Regions from separate parts of the Homo sapiens genome. Here all the other regions are linked to region 3. Evidence: fine-mapped expression QTL. A gene starts in region 3. Each other region holds a variant in brackets. All regions are shown on one strand. Distances are between the middles of the regions. Region 1 overlaps PSD4 (pleckstrin and Sec7 domain containing 4). Region 2 overlaps LOC124907869 (a long non-coding RNA gene). Region 3 holds the start of SLC20A1 (solute carrier family 20 member 1). Region 4 overlaps NT5DC4 (5'-nucleotidase domain containing 4). Region 5 has its middle 21 kb from the start of NT5DC4. Region 6 overlaps LOC124907869 (a long non-coding RNA gene). Region 7 has its middle 15 kb from the start of NT5DC4.

Evidence for each region.
Region 1: its variant is fine-mapped to the expression of SLC20A1 in regulatory T cells (Bossini-Castillo 2019, PIP 0.95).
Region 2: its variant is fine-mapped to the expression of SLC20A1 in whole blood (INTERVAL, PIP above 0.99).
Region 4: its variant is fine-mapped to the expression of SLC20A1 in whole blood (TOPMed, PIP above 0.99).
Region 5: its variant is fine-mapped to the expression of SLC20A1 in whole blood (TOPMed, PIP above 0.99).
Region 6: its variant is fine-mapped to the expression of SLC20A1 in whole blood (TOPMed, PIP above 0.99).
Region 7: its variant is fine-mapped to the expression of SLC20A1 in whole blood (INTERVAL, PIP above 0.99).

What each region holds. Positions count from the first base shown.
Region 1 is chr2:113,181,064-113,185,128 of GRCh38, reverse strand. PSD4 (pleckstrin and Sec7 domain containing 4) reads right to left here. Exons shown (of 17, transcript NM_012455.3): 2 at 1,617-2,783; 3 at 56-172. The coding sequence starts at 2,672. Among named protein-coding and RNA genes, the nearest start is that of PSD4, 9.1 kb to the right of the region's middle. The variant A/G (reference allele first, on the strand shown) is at 1,976.
Region 2 is chr2:112,606,860-112,610,924 of GRCh38, reverse strand. All of the region lies in intron 1 of LOC124907869 (a long non-coding RNA gene), which reads right to left. Among named protein-coding and RNA genes, the nearest start is that of CHCHD5, 24 kb to the right of the region's middle. The variant G/A (reference allele first, on the strand shown) is at 1,758.
Region 3 is chr2:112,643,482-112,647,546 of GRCh38, reverse strand. SLC20A1 (solute carrier family 20 member 1) reads right to left here and starts at 1,608. Exons shown (of 11, transcript NM_005415.5): 1 at 1,418-1,608; 2 at 385-984; 3 at 83-223. The coding sequence starts at 718. It overlaps SLC20A1-DT (SLC20A1 divergent transcript), which reads left to right and starts at 3,367. Exons shown (of 5, transcript NR_033871.1): 1 at 3,367-3,448; 2 at 3,532-3,588. RefSeq lists silencers at 361-655, 1,117-1,946.
Region 4 is chr2:112,727,232-112,731,296 of GRCh38, reverse strand. NT5DC4 (5'-nucleotidase domain containing 4) reads right to left here. Exons shown (of 17, transcript NM_001393655.1): 16 at 1,593-1,670. Among named protein-coding and RNA genes, the nearest start is that of NT5DC4, 8.2 kb to the right of the region's middle. RefSeq lists an enhancer at 3,764-4,065. The variant G/A (reference allele first, on the strand shown) is at 2,332.
Region 5 is chr2:112,698,180-112,702,244 of GRCh38, reverse strand. No RefSeq gene overlaps it. Among named protein-coding and RNA genes, the nearest start is that of NT5DC4, 21 kb to the left of the region's middle. The variant A/C (reference allele first, on the strand shown) is at 1,907.
Region 6 is chr2:112,613,919-112,617,976 of GRCh38, reverse strand. It overlaps LOC124907869 (a long non-coding RNA gene), which reads right to left. Exons shown (of 2, transcript XR_007087193.1): 2 at 2,553-3,764. Among named protein-coding and RNA genes, the nearest start is that of SLC20A1-DT, 28 kb to the left of the region's middle. The variant T/G (reference allele first, on the strand shown) is at 2,069.
Region 7 is chr2:112,703,536-112,707,600 of GRCh38, reverse strand. No RefSeq gene overlaps it. Among named protein-coding and RNA genes, the nearest start is that of NT5DC4, 15 kb to the left of the region's middle. The variant A/G (reference allele first, on the strand shown) is at 1,653.

The sequences.
Region 1 (4,065 bases), 540 kb before region 3:
ATATTCCTCCTCCAAAGATGGAGAAAGTAAGGCCCAGAAAGGGGAAGTGACTTGCCCAAGGTTGCACAGGATGTGCAGCAGGGCCAAGATCAGATCCGACACATCCTGATTCCCAGGTCAATGCTTCGTCCACACACGGTGCTGCAGATGGAGCAGGACCAAGCCTATCTCCCTGAGAAGTCGAGAGAGAGACAGAGGAGAGAAGGAGAGGAGAGGTGACTAGAGGAAAATTGCTCCCAGGGCCTTTCTCAAATCCCATGAAGCCTCCTCCCTTCACAGTCTGCCCTGATGGCCCTGCCTCAGGTGGTGCCAGCCCAAGGAGGGGCTGTGTTTTAGGGAGGGTGATAGCCCCAGGCACTGGGCTGGGTGGGCTCTGCCTTCCCAGACAGGAGCCAACCTGCAACTTATAGCGTTCCCAGGCTTCCCTCTGAGAAGTTAGTGCTTAGAACAAGAAAGTCCATGGCGGGCGCAGTGGCTCACTTAATCCCAGCACTCTGGGACGCCCAGGTGTTTGGAACACCTGAGGTCAGGAGTTCAAGACCAGCCTGGCCAACATGGTGAAACCTATCTCTACTAAAAATACAAAAATTAGCTGGGTGGGGTGGCACACACCTGTAATCCCAGCTACCTGGGAGCCTGAGGCAGGTGAATCGCTTGAACCTGGGAGGTGGAGGGTCAGCCAAGATGGCACCACTGCACTCCAGCCTGGGCAACATAGCAAGACTCCGTCTCAAAAAAAAAAAAAAAAAAAGAAAGTCCTGAGAAAATGGACCTCCACAGGCACAGCCCTAACTGCCCCACACTGGGGGCCCTGGCCCATGGTGGAGAGGACTCCCATCAGTACCCAGGAGCTTCTCTGATCTTGGGCTCCAAGAGCTGCTCTGGTAATAGAGCTGCTCTGGGTAATAGCTCTTCATTGTTCTCAGGGAATTGAGATATTAGAAAATTACAGCCACACTCTACCATATTGAGTCTCCTTATCTCTTAAGGAGAGGCCTCCCTGGGAAAACTGTGCTCCCTATTGTCTCACAGAGCATGTCCCCATCCTTAGTTGATATTAAGAATCTCTGCCATTGTCATATGGGCCTGATCTATTGACACTGGACAGGGGAATAATGACAGATGGTGAGCTAAAAGTAACAACATGCTGAAATCTGTCAAGAAGAGAGAGGACTGGACTTTTGAAATAGGCATCTCTCTGTTAGGGGCAAAGGTCACCCTTGCAGGCTGAGCGCTGCCCTGTTACAGTTGGGAATGTCTTGGAGATGGGAGGGGAAGAATCTGAGAATGGCCTGGAACATGCTGCAATTGGAGGAGCTGTTTGTTCTCCAAACGTATCTAGGCATGGCCCCTTGGAGCTGGTGAGATGGAGACATTTATGGACTTAATTATCAGCTGACATCAGCTGACATCATGGCATTGATAAAATGTCCTATCATTCTGAAGACAACACTGGTCCTGATTTTCTGCTCTATTACCCTGCTATATACTGATGCAGGTTATCCCCAAAGCTCTTAGCGTCAGAAAAGAATGTTCTGGGCCTGGTGACCCCCGAGGAAGACCCTCCCTTCTGTGTTCCCAGCACAGCCCCGGTTGGTTCCCAAGACTGGGCTTACCTCACTCTCCCCGTGACCAGGAGGTGCTGCAGGAGCCCCCTCAGCGGCAGCCACTGAGGCCCAGCAGATGGAGTGTGGTTTATAGATGGGCACAGGGAATGGAGGGGTACAATGCCCACTGATAGCAGCGCCGTCCCCCAAATCTGGCTCACTTTCCAGCTCCCACAGCACTGTGTCTTCTGGGAGGGGAGGCTCCAGAGTCGCTGGGCTCTCAGGTCCAGTCCTCACACCTGCATGGGAGTCTGAAGCCCCCCAGGAAAAGCACTCTCCAGAAGCACTGTTCTCTGAGCAAGGACTCGCCAGGAAGAGGGGGTTGCTGAAGAACATGCTCTCCTCCTCAGCTCCCCACTGTGGGGAAG[A/G]GTCTGGGGTTCCCTCTCTCAGCCATGCCTGGCCCTCTCCCTCAGGCTCACTGCTGTCTTCCCCTGAGTCTTCATTCTCAGGTGGGCTGGAGTGCAGGCCCGTGTCCCCGGGGAGGTCCACAGGGGGCGTGGGGAGACAGCATTTCAGCCCAGCCTTGAGCCCTTCCGTCTTCTCCAGCTCCTCCTCCAGGTCTAGGACACACATCTGGGCCTGCAGGATGCCTGCCCAGAACACTACCTGTGTGGACGTGCTCCGGTTCTGCTTTGGGCTCCCCGGTAGATGGCTGTTCACTGGTGACCCTGGTGATGCTGTGTTCTGCCTGTGCTCCCTCTGGGCAGAGGGGCTCCCCAGGTGTGTGAGCTCCACACCGGAGCCCCAGGGAGGAGCATCTTGTCTGGTAGATTCAGGAGGGTCAGTGGCCCGGGTTTGCTCCTGGCAAGGCTCCAGCCCGTCCTGATGGACCCAGCTCCCCAGGTGTGTGAGCTCCACACCGGAGCCCCAGGGAGGAACATTTTGTCTGGTAGGTTCAGGAGGGTCAGTGGCCCAGGTTTGCTCCTCGAAAGGCTCCGGTGGATCCTCATGGCTGCACGTTTCCCTTGGGCACTCTCCTGGGTGGGGCTCCAGGCTGTCTCCCAAGTACAGGTTGAGAATTTCCATGGGCTGGGGGTGGTCAGGGAGTCTGTAGTCACCCATCATCCACTGAGCAAAAGCTGCCCAGGAGTGCCCCGGAGCATCTGCTTTCACGGTCTCACTGTGTGGACTAGGGGGAGCACTGGCCGCTGGAGAAACTGGGAATCCATATCTACCCTGGAAATGCCCAAAGCAAGTGCAGGTTAGGGAAGGGCTGTCAGCCTCTGGAGGCACGTGTGTAGTGTGTTAGATGTGTTTGGAGTGTCTTCCCCATCTATGCCTGCTGCTCCTTAGCACTGCCCTCCACAGCCCTGCTGGGAGTAAGGAGTGTACCACATATTCCATCTGATCCCACAATCTCTAAACTTGCACCAGGGCAGCACCTGCCCCAAAGACACCCATCTGTTGGCTGAAGGTAGCCCATGTGGCTTAGCTGAAAAGAACAAACTGGCCAAATCAGATCCTTCTCTTGGGCATTTGGATTGGAGAGTGTGGAGACCGAGGTGGTTGGCAGCAGGAACTGAAGGCGGAAATGCCTCTAGGTATCAAGGAAGCAGCTGCAAGCCACAAAGGACATGTAAACCAAAGCATGTGGGAGCCAAACAGACACAGACGAGGTGAGGAGAATGCAACAGACTCATGGAAGAAGCAGGCACCCACGACATGAAGGCCACAGCCTGCCTTACTTCCACTTTCCAAGGCTCCTATCCTTGGGGCCTTACCCTGTTCACCAGGCTGGCTCACAGCCTGCTTCTTTGTCCTTGTAAGCTGTTGGCAGCTTGGAATTTGGCCCAGGTGGAAGCAGCAAGGGGCTCTCTGCTTAACTCAGCCCAAGCCCTCATGAAGGGAGGATGCTTCAGCCCTGCTGCCTACCACCCAGCAGACTGCCTGCTGCATGGGGAGGAGATCTCTGCCTTCTAGGGAGGAAGAGGCTGGGATGTGGCAGCCATGTCTGCCTGGAACTGCCTCACATCTGCCCAGAGCTGCTGTGTGCACAGCCTGCACTAACACTCTGGGTGGGCCCTTATCAGATGAGCCCAGGAACCTCGCAGGGTGTTTTCTAGAAGCATGCATTTCCATCCCCTGCATGCAGCCCACCGCTTACACGGCTCTCAGAGCAGCCCTGCTTCCTCAGAATAGCTGGCTTGTTTTGATCCAAAGCACACTGTGAAGCTTGTAACTTGTTTGTCTCATGGTGCTGGCTCTCCACAAAGTGGAAGTGCAGGGTCAAGTACACAGGTCCTTATGGCATGTCGTAAGCACTCCCCTGGCAGCTGTCTTTTTTTTTTTTTTTTGAGACAGAGTCTCGCTCTGTCACCCGGGTTGGAGTGTAGCGGCACAGTCTTGGCTCACTGCAACCTCTGCCTCCTGGGTTCAAGCGATTCTCCTGCCTCAGCCTCCCGAGTAGCTAGAATTATAGGCGTCTACCACCATGCTCTGCTAATTTTTTTTTTTTTTT
Region 2 (4,065 bases), 37 kb after region 3:
AATTCAACACCCCTTCATGCTAAAAACTCTAATAAACTAGGTATCGGTGGAACATATCTCAAAATAATAAGAGCTATTTATAACAAGCCCACAGCAAATATCATACTGAATGGGCAAAAACTGAAAGCATTCCTTTGAAAACCGGCACAAGACAAGGATGCCATCTCTCACCACTCCTATTCAACATAATATTGGAAGTTCTGGCCAGGGCAATCAGGCAAGAGAAAGCAATAAATGGTATTCAAATAAGAAGAGAGGAAGTCAAATTGTCTCTCTTTGCAGATGACATGATTGTAAATTTAGAAAACCCCATTGTCTCAGCCCAAAACCTCCTTAAGCTGATAAGCAACTTCAGCAAAGTCTCAGGATACAAAATCAATGTGCAAAAATCACAAGCATTCCTATAAACCAATAACAGACAAACAGAAAGCCAAATAATGAGTGAACTCCCATTCACAATTGCTACTAAGAGAATAAAATACCTAGGAATCCAACCTACAAGGGATGTGAAGGACCTCCTCAAGGAGAACTACAAACCACTGCTCAAGGAAATAAGAGAGGACAAAAACAAATGGGAAAACATTCCATGCTCATGGATGGGAAGAATCAATATCGTGAAAATGGCCATACTTCCCAAAGTAATTTATAGATTCAATGCTATCCCCATCAAGCTACCACAGACTTTCTTCACAGAATTGGAAAAAACTACTTTAAACTTCATATAGAACCAAAAAAGAGCCTGCATAGCCAAGACAATCCTGGGCAAGAAGAACAAAACTGGAAGCATCATGCTACCTGACTTCAAACTATACTACAAGGCTACAGTAACCAAAACAGCATGGTACTGGTACCAAAACAGAGATATAGACCAATGGAACAGAACAGAGGCCTCAGAAATAACACCACACAGCTACAACCATCTGATCTTTGACAAACCTGACACACACAAGCAATAGGAAAAAGATTCCCTATTTAATAAATGGTGTTGGGAGAACTGGCTAGCCATATGCAGAAAACTGAAACTGGACCTCTTCCTTACACCTTTTACAAAAATCAATTCAAGATGGATCAAAGACTTAAATGTAAGACCTAGGACCATAAAAATCCTAGAAGAAAACCTGAGCAATACCATTCAGGACATAGGCATGGGCAAAGACTTCATGCCTAAAACACCAAAAGCAATGGCAACAAAAGGCAAAATTGACAAATGTGATCTAATTAAACCAAAGAGCTTCTGCACAGCAAAAGAAACTACCATCAGAGTGAACAGGCAACCTACAGAATGGGAGAAAAATTTTGCAATCTATCTATCTGACAAAGGGCTAATATCCAGAATCTACAAAAAACTTAAACAAATTTACAAGAAAAAAGCAAACAACCCCATCAAAAAATGGGCAAAGGGTATGAACAGACACTTCTAAAAAGAAGACATTTATGCAGCCAACAGACATGAAAAAATGCTCATCGTCACTGGTCATTAGAGAAATGCAAATCAAAACCACAATGAGATACCATCTCATGCCAGTTAGAATGGCGATCATTAAAAAGTCAGGAAACAGGCCGGGCACGGTGGCTCAAGCCTGTAATCCCAGCACTTTGGGAGGCCGAGGTGGGTGGATCACGAGGTCAGGAGATCCAGACCATCCTGGCTAACACAGTGAAACCCTGTCTCTACTAAAAATACAAAAAAATTAGCCAGGCGTGGTGGCAGGTGCCTGTAGTCCCAGCTACTCGGGAGGCTGAGGCAGGAGAATGGC[G/A]TGAACCCAGGAGGCAGAGCTTGCAAAGAGTTGAGATCGTGCCACTGCACTCCAGCCTGGGAAAGATGGCGAGACTCTGTCTCAATAAAAAAATAAATAAATAAATAAAAAGTCAGGAAACAACAGATGCTGGAGAGGTTGTGGAAAAATAATGCTTTTACACTGTTGGTGGGAGTGTAAATTAGTTCAACCATTGTGGAAGACAGTGTGGCGATTCCTCAAAGATCTAGAACTGGAAATATCATTTGACCCAGCAATCCCATTACTGGGCTTATACCCAAAGGATTATAAATCATTCTATGATAAAGACACATGCACACGTATGTTTATTGTGGCACTATTCACAATAGCAAAGACTTGGAACCAACCCAAATGTCCATCAATGATAGACTGGATTAAGAAAATGTGGCACATATACACCATGGAATACTATGCAGCCATAAAAAAGGATGAGTTCATGTCCTTTGCAGGGACATGGATCAAGCTGGAAACCATCATTCTCAGCAAACTATCACAAGGTCAGAAAACCAAACACCACATGTTCTCACTCATAAGTGGAAGTTGAACAATGAGAATATATGGACACAGGGAGGGGAACATCACACACCGGGGCCTGTCAGGGGGTCGGGGGCTAGAGGAGGGATAACATTAGGAGAAATACCTAATGTAGGTGACGGGTTGATGGGTGCAGCAAACCACCAGGGCACGTGTATACCTATGTAACAAAACTGCACGATGTACACATGTTTGCCAGAACTTAAAGTATAATTAAAAAAAAAAAAAAGAAAAGAAAAGAAAACTCAGGGATCAGGGTTTTTAAGAATAATTTGGTGGGTAGGGGTCCAGTGAGCCAGGAGCACCGATTGGTTGGCTTGAGGATGAACTCATAGGCAGTCGAAGCTATCCTCTTATGCTGAGTCAGTTCCTGGGTGAGTGCCACAGAACTGGTTGGCAGGTCCAGGTGAGGCCAACCACTTGTCAGAAATGGAAAAACCTGAAAAGACATCTCAAAAGGCCAATCTCAGGTTCACAATGGTGATGTTATCTTCAAGAGTAATCAGGGAAGTTGCAAATCTCATGACCTTCCACGTAACAGCTGGTAATATTTAGAGTTCCAGCCCCTCTCATCCTAACTTGGTGGCTGGTGGCCTTTCATTCGTTTTACAAGAACAGATTTGCTTTTGGGAAGGGCTGTTATTTAAACTATAAACTAAATTCCTTCCCAAGGCTAGTTCGGCCTATGCCCAGGAATGGATAAGGACAGTTTAGAGGTTAGAAGCAAGATGGAGTCAGTTAGGTCTGATCTATTTCACTGTCATAATTCCCCATAATTTTGGCAAAGGCGGTTTCAAGATGGGCAGTCTTCTTCAGAACTCTCCCGAGCCAGTTTATCACCTGCTTCCCTGGTTCTGGTAAGCATGAGACTCCATGCCTTGCCCTCCTCTGAGTATAGCTGCAGACTAGAAAACACTTGGCTGGGCCAGGCACGGTGGCTCATGCCTGTAATCCCAGCACTTTGGGAGGCTAAGGTAGGCAGATCACTAGGGGTCAGGAGTTTGAGACTAGCCTGGCCAACATGGGGAAAACTCCGTCTTTACTAAAAATACAAAAAAAAAAAAAAAAAAAAAAAAAGAAGCTGGGCATGGTGGCGCATGCCTGTAATCACAGCTACTCAGGAGGCCGAGGCAGTGAGATGAGATCACACCACCGCACTCCAGCCTGGGCAACAGAGCAAGACTCTGTCAAAAGAAAGAGGAAGGGAAGGGAAGGCAAGAGAAGGCAAAGGGAGGGGAGGGGAGGCAAGGGGAGGAGAGGTTAGGTGAGGGGAGGCGAGGCGAGGGGAGGGGAGGGAGAAGAAGGGAAGGGGAGGCCAGGGAAGGGGAGGCAAGGGGAGGGGAGGGGAGGGAGAAGGAGGAAAGGGAAGGGAAGGGAAGGGAAAGGAAGGGAAGGGAAGGGAGGGGAGGGGAGAGAAGGGGAGGGGAGGCGAGGGGAGGGAAAGAAAGGAGGGAGGGAGGGGAGGAAGGAAGGCAGGCTTGACTGTAGCTTAGGAAGGAAGGAAGGCAGGCAGGCAGGCTTGGCTGTAGCTTAGGAAGGAAGGGGAAAATGCTTGTCTGTAGCTTAGAATTAGCACCCACACTCGACGGGAGGCGATGATACAAGGCATGTATATGAGGGAGTGGGAATTTGGGGACCACCTAGAATTATGCCTTCCCATCCCTGAGAGCATGTGCATAGCTACCAGCTATAAAGCTGCTTGGCTGCAGTGTGGTATGGGCTTCACCTGGCACTCATGTTGCTGCCATTTGGC
Region 3 (4,065 bases):
TAGAACACATCCTCCCATACCTAATGCCATGGTAACATATGACGAAAACGAAAATTAAGAAGCCGTTTGGAATTAAACATACCAATTTTTATCAGTTCAGACCACTTGACACCCTCCTGCCCCTTTGCCACGAGGGAGAAACCAATAGTTGCACCAACAATACAATGGGTTCCAGAAATAGGGAGCTTCAAAAACGAAGCCACGAGTTGCCACACAGCAGAACCTGAAACATAGTAAAGTTTTATTAAGTAAATATCAAAATTCCATTATGTAAGTGGCACATTCAGAAAGGTTAATCGGAAAGGTTATGCACAAAAATGGAACCACCCATGATACAAATTTGCTCACCCACCACGAAGAGGACAAAACATAAAAAGAACTTACCAAACATAGCACTGACTGAGCCGGCCATCAGCAGCCCTTGAGTCGAGTTGTACATCTCCACGTCAATCAAGCCCTTCCGGATGGTTTCGCTCACTTTGGCCCCCAGTAAGACAGAGCCCACTGTTTCAAAGATGCTAGCTAGGATGCAGGCTTGCTTCAGGGTCACTACACCTGAGCCCACAGCTGTACCAAAAGAATTTGCTACATCATTGGCTCCCACGGAGAATGCCAAGACAAATGCAATAATGAAGCCCAGGATGAGCATCCATAGGTAGTCCACCAAAGGACCAGAAGCGGCGGTAGCAGCTGTAGTACTGGTAATCAGCGTTGCCATTCTCTGGAGTAGTGGTTGTTTAGTAAGAGAACTACTGAGCGCCTTTCAAGATGTGTAAACAGAATATGAGGTATCAAAAATGCTATAATAAATAATATATATTATATAAAATTAAATACTGTAAACTACGGCACAGAAACCGAGCTGGGGAGTTACTGCTATACGCTGCGTATGGGCATCTGTTGTCTGGGGTTTCTTTGGCTCAGGAGGGCTAAAAGCACGGAGCAGAATTCCATGGCGGAGAAGAGAAAGGACGCAAGTTCATCCTGCGGGGGAGGGGGGAAATAACAATAGCTGCGTGCCCCTGGGGGGCCAGTGGGGCACCCCGCTCTACCCACGCGCCCGGGGTCCCGCAATAGCCTCTGCCGGCTACTCCAGACCCCCATCCCCAGTAGGACGCGCGAGAAGGAGAGGCACGTGGCTCCGGGTCCTCCGCGGCCCGCGCGCGCCCAGCCCAGCCCCTGCGCTGCCAGCCCGCGCGCGCCCTCCGCGCGAAAATCGGAAAAGGGCCGTTCCCGCGCGCGCCGCCCGGGGACCGCCAAAAAGGCCCGCGGGCGGGCAGACGGGCGGAGTGGAGGCGGCCAGCGGCGAAGAGAGAAGCCAGCCGCGCCGCCCACGGCGTCCGCCTCCAGCGCCACGGCGTCCGCGCCCGGCCCCGGGGAGAAGAAAGAGCCTTTACGAGGCGGCGCCACTACTCACCAGGGAAAAGGGAGGGCGGAGCGGGAGACGAGGAGATCGAGGCGACAGCGGCTGGAGCCACGGGCACACGGCCCGGGTCGGCGGCACCGGGGACAGCTCAGCGGGACTCACGACCTTCCCAGGAAGCAGCCGCGGGGGTTTCAGCGGCCGAGAAGAAGAACCACGCAGAGAGCGCCGGCAGCCATCACTCCAGCGGAGCACCCCGCCGGCCCCTACTTATAGCCCGCGCAGCGACCCGCGTGACCCCGCCGCGCCTCGCGCCGGCCCCGAAGCCCCGCCCCCGGCATGACGCAGCCCTCCTCGGCCCGGCGTGCCCAGCCGGGTGAGCCCGACGGTGGCGCTCATTGGCCCGGCCCGCTTCGGCGGCCACGCCCCCAGCGGGGAGCCGGTCCACGTGGGGCGGGACAGCCCCCTCCCTGCGGCCTCGCCCTGGAGTCTCGGCACCGTCTGGCCCCGCCGGCTGATTACAGCCAGAGATCGAGGGGGACCTCGCTGTCCCCCTAGAGGCCGTCATGCGGGGTTACAGAGGCTGCGACCAAAGTCATTCCTAGCTCCTCTCTCGGGGCTCCGGAAAGCCGTCCGCGCCTCCAGCCGCACTTTCAGCGCACGCAGGACCTGCCGCGCCCGGTGGCCACACCCGTCCCTCTGCCGGGTGACGCTGCGGGAGATCTTGCGCCCTGGGGCTCCGGATCCAGTTCTGGCACGTTGTTGCACCTGTGACTTGTCCTTGGCCTGGCACTGTCCCTCGCCTGGGGGAAGCGGGGGGGTGGGGGGGGGATGCTCACGTGGTCGCTTTGCTCCCGCAGTCATGCACTTGGGTGAAAACAGACTGAAGAGTCACGGGAACCAGCTTGTCTCCCCAGTTATGGCGCAGAGCTGCAAGGATGGCTGTGGGTCATTAATTTCTCCGTGGCTGACCTGTGTTTGTAACGCCGCAGCTGTTGCGAGGGGGAAGGACACTGCTTCGGATTCAAATTCTGACTCCTTGCTGCAGTGTGTCACCTTGAGCCAGTCCCAGATCTCTGCGTTCTCACAATTGTAAAATGTTAACAGAGGCTGCCTACCTTGTGGCTGGAATTAAATGAATTAACGTGTGTGAATGTGACTAGAATTCAGTACATGTTCAGGAAAAGCTGATTTCCGCTTTGCTGTTACCGTGAATATTACTGTTTTAGGGTGTAGAAAAGGGTGGAAGGGGATGTTATTGCATCCTGGAAGCTTATCCTTTTGAGGTAAAGATTGATTTCTGGTCCCCTGCGTGGTATATAGTGTAGTTTTGACATTATTTAGATGTGTTATGCACATTTGGGTGTTGATTATATGGCTTACGATCAAGACTAACCAGTCATGCCGTGGGAGATTAAGGTCGTGGTCTCTTGTCAGGATTGTAGTGAGATTTAAAAATTCCAGCCAGAAATACCAGGCTTAGAATGCTCTGAAGCCCTCCCCACATTTTTGCCATCTCTAGCAGGAGGGCACTGCATAGCAGAAACAAAGACGTTGTAAATTGTTGCTGCCTGAGTCATTTATAGAGGCTTAAACAACCTGAATGTCCTCTGACCTACCTGTAACATTTGATGGAGTTGTATGAGTAACTTACAAAGCTGTAGGTCCCAAGGTCGGTCTGAAAAAGAAAGTTCATATCCGGGAGCACTGACCCCGTAGTGTAATCCTGGCACCTTAAAACGTACTGCTCCCTCCACCTTCACTTCAAGGTTATGAAAACATTGAGTAAAAGGGATGATCTGTTCAAAGTCCTTAGTGTTCTGCCAATTTAAAACAGTAATTTTCAAAGCAGTTATTTGCAAGGAAATTGCCTAGAACTTCTCCCAGTGTGCGGTTGTTTTGTGTGTTTGTGTGTGTGTTTTGTTTGTTTGTTTTCAGTCTGTCCACAGGCGTACTTTTATAGGTCTGTGATAGTAGGTAGCTCTTCAAGTTGGCAAACACCTGCTGGACAACCCCTGAGAGATTCATCTGAGTGAGAGAGCACTCTCCAGCCCCATCGGAGTGGGTTTGCAGGGAAATCATAAGGTAGAGATTCAAAGGAATTCCCTTGCGTTGCAAATGAAAACTGTATCTTCAGACTCTGATATAGTGTAATCCTTCCTTTTTAGGAAGAAATCCTTATCTTTCCAACACTGAGATGCTTCTGCCGAAGAGTAGAATGGGAGGTGAGGAATTGGGGTGGGCCCTCACTGCTTTGCCTCCGGATCAGTAGGGTACAGCCCTTGGAGACCAGGATCTTCCTTGGCTGGGACACCTTCGTCCTCCCCTAAGGGAGGAGAGGTAGGGATCTGCCTGTGGAAAGAAGTTACAGTGCCTTTTAAATAGAAATAGGAGGTAGGAGGACCGTCAGTTGTCAGTTCGTGCACAAATGGCATTGTTTCTGGCCTTATCTCTGAATGCTGAGGAAACAGGTCAGAGATCCTAAAGAGAATCTAATCTCTTAGAATCCAGGCATTGGCACAAACCCCCTCTAGCATCTTAGGGAGGTGGTTTGGTGTAGTGGTTAAACACATAGACTGTAAGACCAAACCACCTGCTCTGTCACTCACTAGTCCTGTGACCATAGGCAAATAAATTATCTGCCTCAGTTTCCTGATCTGTAAAGGGGTGAGATTGAGACTTCTAACTCACAGTGCTGTTGT
Region 4 (4,065 bases), 84 kb before region 3:
AAGAGCAATACTGCCTCCTCCCTAAAAGAAGTGTTTGCAGGCTCCAAATCTGCTGCATTTAGGAGATTTCAATACAGTTGCTTTTTCCTTTTTCCATACTTGTGTTATCTGAAAAATATCTCAAGTAGAAGATGGCCCGTGATGCCAGCCCATGTCCAGGATTCCGTCAGCCTCGATGTAACTTTCCTGATCCTCGTTTCTCTCTTTGCCCTAACCCTTATAAGAAACACAGAAAGTGACTATGGATATTTTCTTCCCAAGCTCACACAGTGACGCCCAACCAGGGGTAGATAATGTGTCAAAATGCCCTAGGCTGGATCCTGATGGGGTGAGGATATAGAGGGATCAAACCACAGGCTTCCCCAGCAAGCCTCTGTTACTGACAGGAGTGTGTCCATCTCTCTGCTGGGCTAGGATAGAAAAACAGTTGCCAACCACTGATTAAAGCCTGTGAATGCACTTGAATTTTGAGCTTCTCCTAGGCAGGAATGAAGTAACTTACACTTTATTTTCTAAACTGCCCGGCACACAGGAGGTGCTCAGTAAATACTGGTTGAAAGAACAAACACTGTGCCTGGTACAACCCAGCTAAAGGGGACCTATGGGATACACATCTTTTAAAGTGAGCCCCCAGAAAGCCAAGGGAGAAAGAGGAACATTTATGCAGGGTTTTGGGGGTGCAGAACCCAACGAGGAATCCAGGCATCCACTCCTGTCTCAGCTCAGACGCGGGTCAAGCCTCACAAAGTGTCAAAGGGATCTGAAGCTAGAGCCACTAGTCATTAATGTTAACAAAGCCTGTCTGGGGAGGAAGCCTCAATGTGGAAGAGGGCACATCCTGCAACTTCCCCTGGAGGGAATAATGTGTATGGATTGGCCAACAGCAGTCCGTAGGGGTGCAGGGCCCAACAGTGCACAAAGCACTGCTGAGCAGAACCTGTCGCCCTTTTGGATCCAACTGTCGCTTTTTTTTTTTTTTTTTTTTTGAGACAGTCTTTCCCTGTTGCCCAGGTTGGAGTGCAGTGGTGCAATCTCAGCTCACCGCAACCTCCGCCTCCTGGGTTCAAGTGATTCTCCTGCCTCAGCCTCCCGGGTAGCTGGGACTAGAGGCTTCCACCACCATGCCCAGCTAATTTTTGTATTTTTAATAGAGACGGGTTTTCACCATGTTGGCCAGGCTGGTCTCGACCTCCTGCCCTCAGGTGATCCACTTGCCTCAGCCTCCCAAAGTGCTGGGATTACAGGTGTGAAACACCACACCTGGCTCCAATATCCCATTTTAAAAACAAATATTTAGCTTCTACTTTTCCATCCTGAATTGAAATTCATCGATACAATTATCATCTCTATAATTTAAAGTATCAAGATAATACTCTAACAAAGGAGAAATAAAGAGAAAAGCATTTTACAATAAAATAATACGCATTTTTACATAAATAATGAGGAATGACTATGCTTGCAGACAAAAACAAGCCCACAAGCCCCCCCACCAATTGCCTCATGCGTCCTGGGGTTGATACAACCCCACTGGGAACCACTACTCTAGCCCATGGGACCCCAAGCCACAGAGTTCGTCGGCCACAGCCACTCACCCTCTGGTTGCAGGAGAGGAGGCAGGAGGCAGGGTCTAGATTGGCCTGTTCTTGCTCCACAACTGACTCATGTGGCATCTGTAGGGATAAATGCAGGTGGAGGTGAAGCACTCCGTCCCGGGTACGGCCTTCCAGGATTCCTCAGCTATGCACAGGCTCCCCTGCCCACAGCTGCCAACTTCCTGCCCAACGATGTTGCTGCAGAGGAAGGAACCTCGGAAGGTCAGCAGGGGCAGGAAGGTTCTGGCAGCTGGACTTCACTTCCTCAAAAATCCCAGGCCAAGGCCAGGCGCGGTGGCTCACGCCTGTAATCCCAGCACTTTGGGAGGCCGAGGCAGGCGGATCACTTGAGCCCAGGGGTTCAAGACCAGCCTGGGCAACATGGTGAAACCCTGTCTCTATAAAAACATAAAAATTAGCTGGGCATGGTAGTGCATGCCTGTAATCCCAGCTACTTGGGAGGCTGAGGCACAAGAATTGCTTGAACCCGGGAGGTGGAGGTTGCATTGAGCAGAGATTGCACCACTGCACTCCAGCCTGGGCAGCAGAGCTAGACTTGGCCAAAAAAAAAATCCCAAGCCAGGAAGATTGGCAAGGTCAAATTTCTTTAAGTGTTTCGCCTTGTCACTTTTGGGGATGGGGGGTTGGTGTGTTCTTCACCTGTCTGGTCTCTACTTTAACAATAATATCTACCAGCACAGAGGGCTATGCCTGGACCCCCAGCTTTGCCCACAGGAGC[G/A]GTCTGGGCCAGCCCATCTAAGAGTCCAGAGATGAGATGAGGCCGCCCGGTGAAAGCCAGTTCCCCCATGTGTGTGGCAGCACAGTGCAGGAGACACAGTGTGACCCCTGGAGCTTGACAGGCTCACATCCCAGCTGTGTGGTCCACTAGCTGTGTGATGGCAAGTCACTTAGATTCTCTGTGCTTCCTCATCAATGATAAAATGAGGAAGATAAAACCTACTTTGCTGAGTTATATTGAGCATTAAGCATAATCGATGAAAAGCACCCAGCCCAGTGCAGGAAACACAGCAGACACTCAATAAATGGTTTTCCCCTCTCAAACGTCTGGAAGGCAGCCAAGGGCAGCAGGGAAGGCAGGCGACAGGGAGCCTCAGAGGTCTAGCTTCAAGTTCAGATCCTAAACTGCAAGCTCTACGTCTTATCAAATGGAAATGATGATGCCAACTTGGGAGGACTGACACGTGCAGGTTCCAGGGAAGCCCTGAGCTGGCCAGTCCCATGACTCCTACTAACCCTTGCCCAGTGCCATCGTAGCCACCTCTACCACCCTGTTTTTAACCCAGAAGCATCCTCCGGTCTCCCAGAGGAAAACCAGCCAGAGTGTTTACTGTATCATCTGCTGCCTCCTCCACCCCTTCGGAAGCCACTGTATGTTTACTGAGGGTAGGAGGACTGTGCCTTCCTCCTTGCAACTGATATCCTTTCTACCAAGGAAATGACGAGATAGTGTGGTCTCAATCTAAAGCAGGAGTTAAGGTTGGGCATGAGGAAGAACATCCCTGCCGAGGCATCTTATCTGTATAAACCTAACTCTTCCCATGCGTCTGTTAAGACACAGACAGTTATCTGCAAGACTGTGATCCCACTGAGTCTGAAGGTGGGAGATTAGGGCTGGTGACCTTGCAAGCTCCTAGCAAGGCTGGGGACCAGTGGGTCCTTCTAGGATAAATGTTCACAAACAGCCGTGGAGATTCCGCAGGGACCCACCAACTCCGGGGCCGCCCGAGAGAGCTGAGCTCACTCGGAAGTACAGGAGGTCGAGGCAGGCGGCAGTGTAGAGGTCGGCATAGCGCATCAGCTGGCTGGAGAAGAGTGTCTGGCGGAAACCGCAGCGGAACAAGCTGCCCATGGTGCTGTAGCACAGGTCCAGCTCCTGGGTGACCCTCTGGCCAGAGGGGCAACACACTGAATTGAAATCCCAGCCCGCTTAGGCCTGACCTGGCCTACTCCCTTTCTGGGCAACCCTGGCCTCTCTGGGCCTCTCACCGGGGGACATTGAAACCTGTGACTCTCTGTAGGAAGGAGCAGCATGTTGTAGACCCACAGGCTGCACACTTGGCTTTTGGAGGTGGGGCAGCTCCTCACTTTGCCACAGGCCCCGCTGCAGCTTTCCATCACAGTTACCTGCCTGGCCCTGAAGATGGACCACCCAGGACTAAACCCACAGCTTCATTTACCATCTGAGTCCAACAGAGGACTTGGCAAGGCGACACCCCCAGCCTCGCTCCTACTATCCTGGCAGGCCCCACCCCGCCACCAGGCCCTGTTTCCTGTCTGCTTTTAGAGCCTAGAGAATGGTTCCAACATTTACTCCCAGGATGACCTCTCTCTGAGCCTCAGTTTCCTCATCTGTAAAATAAAGGTGACAATCCCTGCTCCATCCACCTCTTAAGGCTGTGGGGAAGATCAAACGGCTGTGCTTTGTAAAAGGCTCTGCAAAGACCCTTTGTGA
Region 5 (4,065 bases), 55 kb before region 3:
CATGATCCTATAATGGTGGATACATGTAATTATACATTTGTCAAAACCCATGGAATGTACAGCACCAAGAGCAAAGTCTAATGTAAACTATGAACTCTGGGTGACGAGGATGAGTCAGTGCAGGTGCATCGATTTTTAATATTTTGGTGGGGGATGTCCACAGTGTGGGAGGTTGTGCATGGGTGGGGAGAGGTGGATGGGAACTCTGCACCTTCTGCTCAGTTTTGCTGTGAAACTAAAACTGCTTTAAAAGATAAAGTTTATTAATTTTAAAACAGCAATGATTGATGGGGCACGGTGGCTCAGGCCTGCAATCCCAGCATTTTCGCTTTGTGCTAAGACCTACAAATTATGTAGCTGGCCCAGTCTGTAACAAGATCCATATAAGAATGCTAAAATTAGTGGGTAGAAGTGAGGTAGGAGGCAGGACTTGACTCCAGATGAGATTGAAGACTGGCTGAAACAGAGAAGAGGCACCAAAAATATCTTTCCATAAGACTCACCCACCAGTGCCATGACAGTTTACCATTGCCATGGCAACATCTGGAAGTTATGACTCCTTTTCTAGAAATTTCTGAATAACCCATCACTTAATTTGTATATAAAATACAGGCCAGTCATGGTGGCACATGCCTGTAATCCCAGCACTTTGGGAGGCTGAGGCGGGTGGATCACTTGAGGTCAGGAGTTCAAGACCAGCCTGGCCAACATGGTGAAATCCCATCTCTTCTAAAAACATAAAAAATTAGCCGGGCGTGGTGGCACATGCCTGTAGTCCCAGCTACTCAGGAGGCTGAGGCAAGAGAATCGCTTGAACCAGGGAGGCAGAGATCGCTCCACCGCACTCCAGCCTGGGCGACAGAGTGAGACTCTGTCAAAAAATAAAATAATAATGATAATAAATAAAGTACGTATAAGTATAACCGCAGAACTGCCCCTGAGCTGCTGCTCTGGGCACATTGCCTATGGGTAGCCGTGCTCCAGAAGAAGCAGTTCCTCTGCTGCTGCCCTTCACTACCGCATCTATAAAAGTTGCTGTCTCACACCACTGGCTCACTCTTGAATTCTTTCCTGAGCAAAGCCAAAAACCCCCTCTGGCTAATCTCCAATTTGGAGGCTCACTTGCCCTGCATCAGAAGCTTAAGAAAAATCAGGATATTTCAGTAGCTTCAAAGTACCTCCCCCAAAATACTTGTTAATTACAAGGGGGAAAATAGAAACTTTACAGTGGAGTAACCAGCTGGACACTGTCTTAGCCAAGCAATCAGAGTTAATATCATGTATCCTGACATGGTACACTGGTAGAAAAGCACATTACTTCTGCATTATTCTCCCCCCAAATCCATAACCTTCATATAACCATGAGAAAACATTGAATGGACTTATATTGAGGAAGATTCTACAAAATGCCCAACCATTACTGTTAAAAACTGTCCACGTCATGAAAAGCAAGAAAAGACTGAGAAACTGTGACAGATGGGAGATTCAGAGGATATCATTACTAAATCAAAACAGGATCCTAGATTGGATGCTGGACAGAAAAAGGACATTAGGTGGAATACTAGGGAAACCCAACTGAAATCTATGTATTAATTAACTCCACTGAGTCAATGTTACCTTTCTGACTGAAAGTCATTGTACCATAATTCTGGAGGACAGTAGGGGAAGCTGAAAGAAGGATTTAAGGGAACTCTCTGTACTATCTTTGTAACTCTTTGGGTCATAAATTATTTCAAAATTAAAAAAAAAAATTTAAGCAATCATAATTCAGAAGGCAGTGATGAAATACACCATAAGCAAAACCAAAAGCATGTGACACTGTGGGAAGAGGAACTTACAACTCGTAACACAGACAAGAGTGAATCTCCCTAATACATAAAGAGCTTTGAGAAAAACATCAATAACC[A/C]AATAAGAGAAAAATGAACAAACAATTCAAAGAAAAGGAAAACAACTGGCTCTTAAATGTATAAGATCATCAAAATCTCTCATAAAATAACTGCAAATTAACACTACAGATAATTTTCACCTATCACATTGGCAAAAATCCAACTAGTTGATAATATTCTCTGTTGGTGAGTCTGTGGAGAAAGAGGAACTTTCAAACATTATTCGTGGGAATGTAAATGGATGCAACCACTTCTGGAAGGCAATCTGACAGCATCTATCAAAATTAAGATAAATCAGCCAGGTGTGGTGGCTCATGCCTATAATTCCAGCACTCTGGGAGGCAGAGGCGGGAGGATCTTTTGAGCTCAAGAGTTTGAGACCAGCCCAGGCAACAGAGCAATACCCCATCTCTGCCAAAAATGTTTAAAATTAGTTGGCTGTGATGTAGTCCTAACTACTTGAGAAGCTGAGGTGGGAGGATTGCTTGGGCCCAGGAGTTTGAGGCCATAGTGAGCCACGATGGTGCCACCGCACTCCAGCCTGGGCAACACAGCAAGATACTGACTCTACAAAAAAAAAAAAAAAAAAAAAAGATCAATCCTTTCTTTGACCCATTCCACTTTTACACTTCAGATTGATTTGTACAAATCCAAAATGTCCACATATATAAGGCTGCTCATGGTAACACTGCTTATAACAGTAAAATAAGTAGCATATATCCATCAATAGAAGGCTGGTTAAATAAAGTTAAGGCCCCACAGTAATGCAATACTTTATACACATACGACTTTGAAAAGTGAGGTTACCAGGGACTGGGGGGAGAGGGAAACAGGGAAATGCTGGTCAAAAAGTACAAAGCTTCAGCTATTCAAGATGAACAAGTCCTAGAGATCTGCTGTACAGCATGGCACATATAATTAACAATACTGTATTGTATACTTAAAATGGTGTTAAGAGGACAGAGCTCATATTAAATGTCATTATCACACCCACAAAAAAAGAGGAAGAGAGAAAACTTTTAGATTTGATGGTTATGTTTATGGCTTTTTTATGGTGACAGTTTCATGGGTATATATTTATTTTCAACTCATCAAGATGTACAAACTGAATATGTACAGCTTTTTGGCATGTCAATCATACCTCAATTAAAAAAAAAAGAAGAATGAGGAAGCTTTCTATCTACTAGTAAGGAAAGACCTCCAAGATTTACCAACAACTGTGGGGGAAAAGTTTGCAGAACAAATAGTATCTACATTCTGCATGAAAAAAAAAAAGAAGGGAGTAACAACAACAACAAAAATAACCCCATTAAAAAGTAGGCAAGAGATATGAACAAACACTTCTCCAAAGAAGACATACACACGGAGCCAACAAACATATGAAAAAAATGCTCCACCCACTGATCATCAGAAAAATGGGAATCGAATCCATAATGAGATACCGTCTCACACCAGTCAGAATGGCTATTATTACAAAGTCAAAAAATTAAAAAAAAACCAGCTGATGAGGCTGTGGAGAAAATAAAAGGTTTAGACACTGTTAGTGGGAATGTAAATTAGTTTAATCACTGTGGAAAGTAATTTTGAGATTTCTCAAAGATCTTAAAGCTGAGCTTACCATTCAACCCAGCAGTCCCATTACTGGGTATATACCCAAAGGAAAACAATAGTTCTACCAAAAGACTCATGTACTTGTATGTTCATCAAAGTGCTATTCACAGTAGCAAAATCATGGATTGGTGCTCATCCATGGATTAGATAAAGAAAATGTGGTACCTCTACAGTATGGAATACTAAGCAGCCATAAAAAAGAGTGAAACACATCCTTTACAGCAACATGGATACAGTTGGAGAACATTATGCTAAGTGAATTAATGCAGGAACAGAAAACCAATGCCACATTTCCTCACTTGTAAGTGAGAGCTAACCATTGGATATACATGGACACAAAAATGGCAACAATAGGCACTGGGGACTACTAGAGAGGGGAGGGAGGGACGGAGGGAGGGAGGAGGGGAAGGGTTGAAAAACTAACTATTGGGTACTAAGCTCACTACCTGAGTAACCGGATCAATTGTACCCTAAGCCTCAGCATCACGCAATATATCCAGGTAACAAACATGCACATATACCTCCTGAATCTAAAATAAAAGTTGAAATTATTTATTTAAAAAAAGAG
Region 6 (4,058 bases), 30 kb after region 3:
CCATGTTAGCCAGGATGGTCTTGATCTCCTGACCTCGTGATCCACCTGCCTCGGCCTCCCAAAATGCTGGGAATACAGGTATAAGCCACCATGCCCAGCCTAACCTGATGCTGCTTTTACTGTCCAGTTATGCTTCCTGGATCTGGGCAATTATAGATACTGATGATATTGATCATGAGTATGAAGTGACGACTCCCAAAGTGGTCCCGGCATGGCACACTATGTGAGGGAGTGGAAGATGTTCTAGATGGCACAAGTTGCAAACACACACACGCACACACACACAAAGCTGCACTGCTTAGGAATAAACTCAGCCATATGGTGTGTATTAGACTGAGTGAGGACTGCAGGGACTAGCTATACCTATCTCATGGCCATGAAAAAACATCAAAAGCCCAGGATGGTGGTGAAGGAACACTCTAGATCTCTCTTGGCTCTTGCCTGCAGAACACCTGGCTTGGCCTGTCATCTCAGAATCTTTTTGTCATGTTGTCCAGGCTATCACCACTGCCCTCAGTCTAACTACTACTCCCATTCTATCGAGAGACCTTAAATCGAGGACCTCCAACTTTAGAAGTGGAGAACTTCTGCCCAAGACATCAGAAAAAAGATAATTTTCTGGACACTTAGGTTTCTTTCCTGCTTTCTCCTATCCTATTATTGCTGGTATCTCTGGTCCCCTTCCACTACCTAAAAAAAATAACAAAACTTCCTTGTGTTGCTCAATCTGTCTTACCCCTCCTGACCCTGCTGACAAACTTTTAATAGCTCCTCCTGCCTGGGCTCGATGGCTCATGCCTGTAATTCTAGCACTTTGGGAGGCTGAGGCAGGTCGATCACTTGAGATCAGGGGTTCGAGACCAGCCTGGCCAACATGGTGAAACCCCGCCTCTACCAAAAATATGAAAAATTAATCAGATATGGTGACATGTGCCTGTAATCCCAGCTACTTAGGAGGCTGAGGCAGGAGAATTGCTTGAACTCAGGAGGCGGAGGTTGCAGTGAGCCTAGTTCGTGCCAAAGCACTCCGCCTGGGGGATAGAGCAAGACTTCATCTCAAAAAAAAAAAAAAATCTCCTCCTTTGAGTACTTTGGAAGTATTCTTCCAGGAACTATTCCTTCTTTCAGGCTCTTTCTGATACTTAAATTTCCTTTATATTGTTAATCCCAGCCTCCAGTCTTGTGAGAATTGGACCTTGACGTCACGTCAGCACTGTGCTGCTGCTGTGGTCACCCAAACCTATTAGCAGAATCTAATTCGCCCTGAGCAGGACGTAGCATTGAGACTAGGTTGGGCTACGATAGCCGGAGACTTATACTCTTACAGTTTTGCCCCAAATGAATAGCACTTCTTATGGTGGATATCAGGCATATAATTGCCTACCACGCACCTAGTTTGGGCTATCAAGTGTGAGCGGTAATGGATGATCACATTGCCCTGGATTTTCTGCCAGCCAGCCAAGTAGGACATCTGAATTAATGACATACCTAACTGGCTTGGCTCTGGATGGGAAGTCTGATTGCAGCCTATCTTTTTCCAAGCAGGCCTAATTGTCCTCCTGGGAGTCATCATCATGGTTACTCTCATTTAATGTTGCCTAAGGAAAAGGATTTGGTCCAACCTTCTACCAGTACATCTAAGGTAAGTGATGGAGAATTTCCAGGCCAGGCATGGTGGTTCACACATGTAATATCAGCACTTTGGGAGGCCCAAGTGGGCAAATCACTTGAGCTCAGGAGTTTGAAACCAGCCTGAGCAACAAGGTGAAACTCCACCTCTACCAAAAATTCAAAAATTACCAGGTGTGGTGGTGCACACCTGTGGTCACAGCTACTTGGTAGGCTGAGGAGGGAGGATCACTTAAACCCAAGAGGCAGAGGTTGCAGTAAGCCAAGATTGTGCCACTGCACTCCAGCCTGGGCAACACAGTGAGACCTCATCTCAAAAAAAAAAAAAAAAGAATTCCCAGGCTCAGCACAGTGGCTCATGCCTGTAATTGCAGCACTTTGGGAGGCCGAGGTGGGTGGATCACTTGAGGCCAGGAGTTCAAGGCCAGCCTGGCCAATA[T/G]AGTGAAACCCTGTCTCTACTAAAAATACAAAAAATAGCCAGGTGTGGTACCACATACCTGTGGTCACAGCTACTCAGGAGGCTGAGGCATGAGAATTGCTTTAACCCGGAGGCAGAGGTTGCAGTGGGCCGAGATTGTGCCACTGCACTCCAGCCTTGGGCAACAGAGTGAGACACCATCTCAAAAAAAAAAAAAAAAAAAACAATATCCAGAAGAATTATCAGCGGGGTATGTGGAAGGTCCAGCATGGTGGTATGGAGTGCCAACTCCACAGTGCCCTGGCAACCCTGCATGTCTTCACTTAGGCCATGTAGACAAGGCTCAACCACAGTCTGACTCCCCTTGTGCAAGAACACCCGAGGCTCCTGAAACACGGTGAGATTGTAACCGCCCAGTGGGTTCACTTTGCCCCCTGCCTAGACAAAGCCCATTTTTCAAGACAGGGGAATTACATGGAGAAAAAGTAATTCATGCAGAGCTGGCTGAGCAGGAGACCAGAGTTTTATTATTACTCAAATCAGTCTCTCTGAAAACTCAGGGATCAGGAGAGAGGTTCAAGATGGCCGAATAGGAACAGCACCAGTCTGCAGGTCCCAGCGAGATCGATGCAGACGGTGGGTGATTTCTGCATTTCCAACTGAGGTACCTGGTTCATCTCACCGGGGCAGGTTGGACAGTGGGTGCAGCCCACAGAGGCTGAGCGGAAGCAGGGTGGGGTGTCACCTCACCTGGGAAGCGCAAGGAATCGGGAAATTTTCCCCCTGACCCAAGGGAAGCTGTGAGGGTCTCAGCCTGAGGAACTTGGGCACATATACTGCACTTGTTCCATGGTCTTCACAACCTGCAAACCAGGAGATTCCCTCTGGTGACTACCCCACCAGGGCCCTGGGTTTCAAGCACAAAACTGGGCGGCCAACTGGGCAGACACTGAACTAGCTGCAGGAGCTTTTATTTTATTTTATTTTTCCATATCCCAGTGGCACCTGGAACGCCAGCGAGACAGAACTGTTCACTCCCCTGGAAAGGGGGCCTGAAGCCAGGGAGCCAAGTGGTCTGGCTCGGCGGTTCCCACCCCCATGGAGCCCAGGAAAGTAAGATCCACTGGTTTGAAATTCTCGCTTCCAGCACAGCAGCAATCTGAGATCCACCTGGGACGGTGGCGCTTGGTAGGGGGAGGGGCGTCCGCCGTTGCTGAGGCTTGAGCAGGCGGTTTTACCACCACAGTGTAAGCAAAGCTGCTGGGAAGTTCAAACTGGGTGGAGCCCATTGCAGCTCAGCAAGGCTGCCGTGTTCAGACTGCGAGATTGCTCCTCCCTGGACAGGGCATCTCTGTAAAAAAGGCAGCAGCCCAGTCAGGCTTGTAGCAGACTTAAACGTCCCTGCCTGATGGCTCTGAAGACAGCAGCGGATCTCCCAACACAGCATGCGAGCCTGCTAAGGGCCAGACTGCCTCCTCAAGTGGATCCCTGACCCCTGTGTATACTGACTGGGAGACACCTCCCAGTTGGGGCTGACAGACACCTCATACAGAAGAGCTCTGGCTGGCATCTGGCAGGTTCCCTGCTGGGTCGAAGCTTCCAGAGGAAAGAACAAGCAGCAATCTTTGCTGCTTTGCAGCCTCCACTGGTGATACCCAGGAAAACAGGGTCAGGAGGGGACCTCCAGCAAACACCAGCAGACTGGCAGCAGAGGGGCCTGTTAGAAGAAAAAGAAACAAACAGAAAGGATTAGCACGTCCACTCAAAGACCCCATCCGAAGGTTACCAACATCAAAGACCAAAGGTAGATAAATCCACAAAGATGGGGAAAAACCAGTGGAAAAAGGCTGAAAAATCCAAAACCAGAACGCCTCTCCTCCTCCAAAAGATCGCAACTCCTCGCCAGCAAGGGAACAAAACTGGACAGAGAATGAGTTTGACGAACTGACAGAAGTAGGCGTCAGAAGGAGGGTAATAACAAACAACTCCGAGCTAGAGGAACATGTTCTAA
Region 7 (4,065 bases), 60 kb before region 3:
GGTGATACAGACAGATCCTGTTACAGAGTGGACAGAAGAGAACTGGGAACAAGGATACAATCTGCCACAGCTATGAGCAGTTGGAAACGATGCTTAGTGTTCATCGTCACTAAATCTGACGTCAGGAATCTCTGGCACCCAGAATACCACCTCATACTGGAAAATCCCATGCCCTAGAAGCCTTCTCCAATGGCTGATGAGAAGGATCACCTAGGTTTGACTTTTGTGCCAATAAAAGGAAAAAAATAAAATATACGTGTGTTGTGTGTGTTTATGAACATATATTTATAAGTAGCTCCATGTAAAATAGTGAAGGTATATGCTGTTAAATTTTTAAAAGGCAAAAGTAAAATTATATGTATGACAGGCTACCATTTATTTATTGTTTGTTTGTTTGTTTGTTTTTGTGAGACAGAGTCTCACTCTGTCGCCCAGGCTGCAGTGCAGTGACGCAATCTCAGCTCACTGTAACCTCCACGTCCCAGGTTCAAGCGATTCTACTGCCTCAGCCTCTCGAGTAGCTGGAATTACAGGCACCCGCCACCATGCACAGCTAATTTTTGTATTTTTAGTAGAAACGGGGTTTCATCATGTTGGCCAAGCTGGTCTCGAATTCCTGATCTCAAATGATCCACCCACCTCAGTCTCCCAAAGTGCTGGGATTATAGGCGTGAGCAACAGCGTCCAGCCTATCATTTATTTTTTTTATTGGGGGAGAATACATATACATTTCTGTTTATATACACATAAAACATTTCCCAAAAGATCAATAAGAAGCTGGTGACAGTGGCTATTTTAGGAACAAGAACTAAGGGACTGAAAGTGGGGAGGAAGGCTTGCTTTTCACTGTATACTCTTCTTATAACTTGGATTTTTTTTCCTTTTGTTTAGATTATCTTTTCCAAGAAATTTGTTCTCATTAAAAATTTTAAAAATTGTCCTTTCTCACGCACATCACATATCTCTCTGTCTATGCTTCCTTCATTGCTCCCACATTGGGACATGCCCTGAATTCCCATTCCTACAGCCTGAGAAAGCAGAGTTTCCAGAAAGCACTAGAAAATCCAAGAAGAACAAATACCAAGATCTACAAAGCAAAAAAAGAGCTCATGCTCCAACAGGCCAACCCGCTTCCTGTGGTTGTACAGACCACACTCCCTCACCACTGGCCTGATAAGCCCCTTTGAGTAAGGTGAGATCTGCAGATAGGGCTGAACTCTTGCGTGAGTCAGGAGTCTTTGCAGCAAAGGGGGTGGAGAGAGGGGAAGGAAAGGAAGAGACAGAAAGAGAGCAGCAACACGTGCAAAGGAAGCCAGGACTGGATGAGATGGAGGCCACTGGTGCCCCCAAGATCAGGGACTCTACAGATGGGGCTGCCTACCATACCATAGGCTGCCGAGACCTCTCCTCTGTCTTCTTCACATGCCCACTCCTGCTCCAAACCTCCCATACACCACATGCTTGCTGTGAAGAGATCCCTTTGCAGAAATCTCAAGGGCTGACATTTTTACCATCTGGAGGCGTGGAACCAGGACAGCACCCATAGGAACAGGAGCTAAAGTCAGAGATAACATGAGGGCATGGTGTCTAGGGAAATGGTGGAAATTCTGAGGAGTACTTTGGATTTCTAGAAGGCATTGAATTTGGAGTGC[A/G]AGCCAAGCTTATGTCTAAATAAGCCTAGAGCCCACAGTGGTCACTGGGTTTCACAAGCAAAGGTCATGAATATAGAATGTTCTTGCATGAGTGGTGGCGAGGTTGGTCTGCATCACTGGTCATCTGCTGTGAATTTTTTCAGGGGAAGCTCACATCCTCGGAGGCCTTCGCCTCACCCTAGAAAGATACAAAATGCCCTGGAGAAATGCTGTATTCACAGCACATTTGCACAGGACACTGTGTCAGTCACTGATCTGGAACACTTTGCTTGCTTACCTCCTTGAGCTATTGGTGCAATAACCATATGCAGATGGGCTAGCACAGGCTCCTGGGCTCCCTGAGTCAGTTCCACAGAACCCGGGATCAACAAGGAGTTACGAGAGTTCCATGGAACAAATAGAAGACATGATTAAATACATTTAGGGAAGATGGGAATAAACAAGATTTATGACTGCAGGACTTCTCAGAGTTTTGATGCTTTGATATGCATAATGAGCCCCCAAGAAGGGAATTATAATAGAGAGTGTATCTCAAACTCCTTTGACCATGGAATCTTTTAGAACAGCATCCCAGCCAGGGTTGCAAGGAACACATCTTGGAAGCCTCAAGTACTTCCAAGGTCAGCAGGCAACAATCAGGCAAGCCTATCGAAAAGAGAACTTCTGGGAATGAAAATGGGGATACTCTGGCTTGGTTTTTACATCCCAACCAGTGCCAATTTCCATCTGGAAATACTTTTGCCAGGTCTGCCACAACCTGAGACCTCCACATCATGCAGATTTGGTTTAGCCAAAGGTACCATCGAAGTCTACACCCCAAGCCATTAACTATAGAGACTACAGAGGAGTGGGATTAGGGTGACTGAGGGGAAACATTCACATCCTACTTTATACACTTCTATTTTATTCTTTTTTAAAATAACAAGCATGTATTTCTTTTTACATTTCTATGTATATAGTAGATGTGACCCTTCAGGAAGACTCAAGAGAGCACGGAGCTTGTCTTTCTTGTTCCATAGCATATCCACAGTATCTACAGGGATTGGCATGTAGTAGGTGCACACTCAACATTTATTGAATGACTCAAGCTGTGAAAAAGGGTGAAGACAGTAGATATAAGAGGGAAGAAGGCAAAGACCGAGACTGAAAAGCGTACTCAAGGACAAGGAAAAAAATGAGTTCAAACTTTTAAAAATGAGACCGGGTGCAGAGGCTGAGACCTGTAATCCCAGAACTTTGGGACGCTGAGGAGGGCGGATCACCCGCGGTCAGGAGTTCAAGACCAGCCTGGTCAACATGGCAAAACCCCATCTCTACTAAAAATACAACAACAGCAACAAAAATGAGCCAGGCGTGGTGGTGCATGCCTGTAATCCCAGCTACTCGGGAGGCCGAGGCAGGAGAATCACTTGAACCTAGGAGGCGGAGGCTGCAGTGAGTGAAGATCGCACCATTGCACACCAGCCTGGGCAACATGAGTGAAACTTCATCTCAAAAAAACAAAACAAACAAACAAAAAAACCAACTTTTAAAAATGAACTTAAAGGCTGGGAGCAGTGGCTCACACCTGTAATCCCAGCACTTCGGGAGGATGAGGCAGGTGGATCACCTGAGGTCAGCAGTTCGAGGCCAGCCTGGTCAACATGGTGAAACCCCATCTCTACTAAAACTACAAAAATTAGCTGGGCATGGTGGCACATGCCTGTAGTCCCAACTACTGGGGAGGCTGAGGCAGGAGAATCACTTGAACCCGGCAGGCAGAGGCTGCAGTGAGCTGAGATTGCACCACTGCACTCCAGCCTGGGCGACCGAGCAAGATTCCGTCTCAAAAAAATAAATAAGTAAAATGAACTTAAAAATTCCCTATAGAGTTTCAAAGTGGTTAATTAAAATGCAGTAATATTGAAAGACAATGTCAAGAGAATGAGTAGAGAAGCCAGGAATTGGTAGAAAACATTTGCAAAAGACACATCTGATAAAGTACTGTTATCCACTTTATACAAAGAACTCTTAGCCAGGCGTCATAGCTCATTCCTGTAATCCCAGCACTTTGAGAGGCTGAGGTGGGTGGATTGCTTGAGACTAGGGGTTCAATACCAACCTGGCCAACATAGTGAGACCCCATCTCTACAAAACAAAATAAAAAGTTACAGCTATTCAGGAGGCTGAGGCAGAAGGACTGCTTGAGCCCAGGAGGTTGAGTTTGCAGTGAGCCATGACTGTACCACTGGACTCTAGCCTGGGCAACAAAATGATACCCCGTCCCCTTTGCCCCCGACAAAAAAAAGACCTAAAATGCAACAACTAGAAAACAAACAACTCAATTTAAAAATAGGCAAAAGGCTGGGTGCAGTGGTTCACACCTGTAATCCCAGCACTTAGGGAGGCCAAGGTGGGAGCATCACTTTGAGGC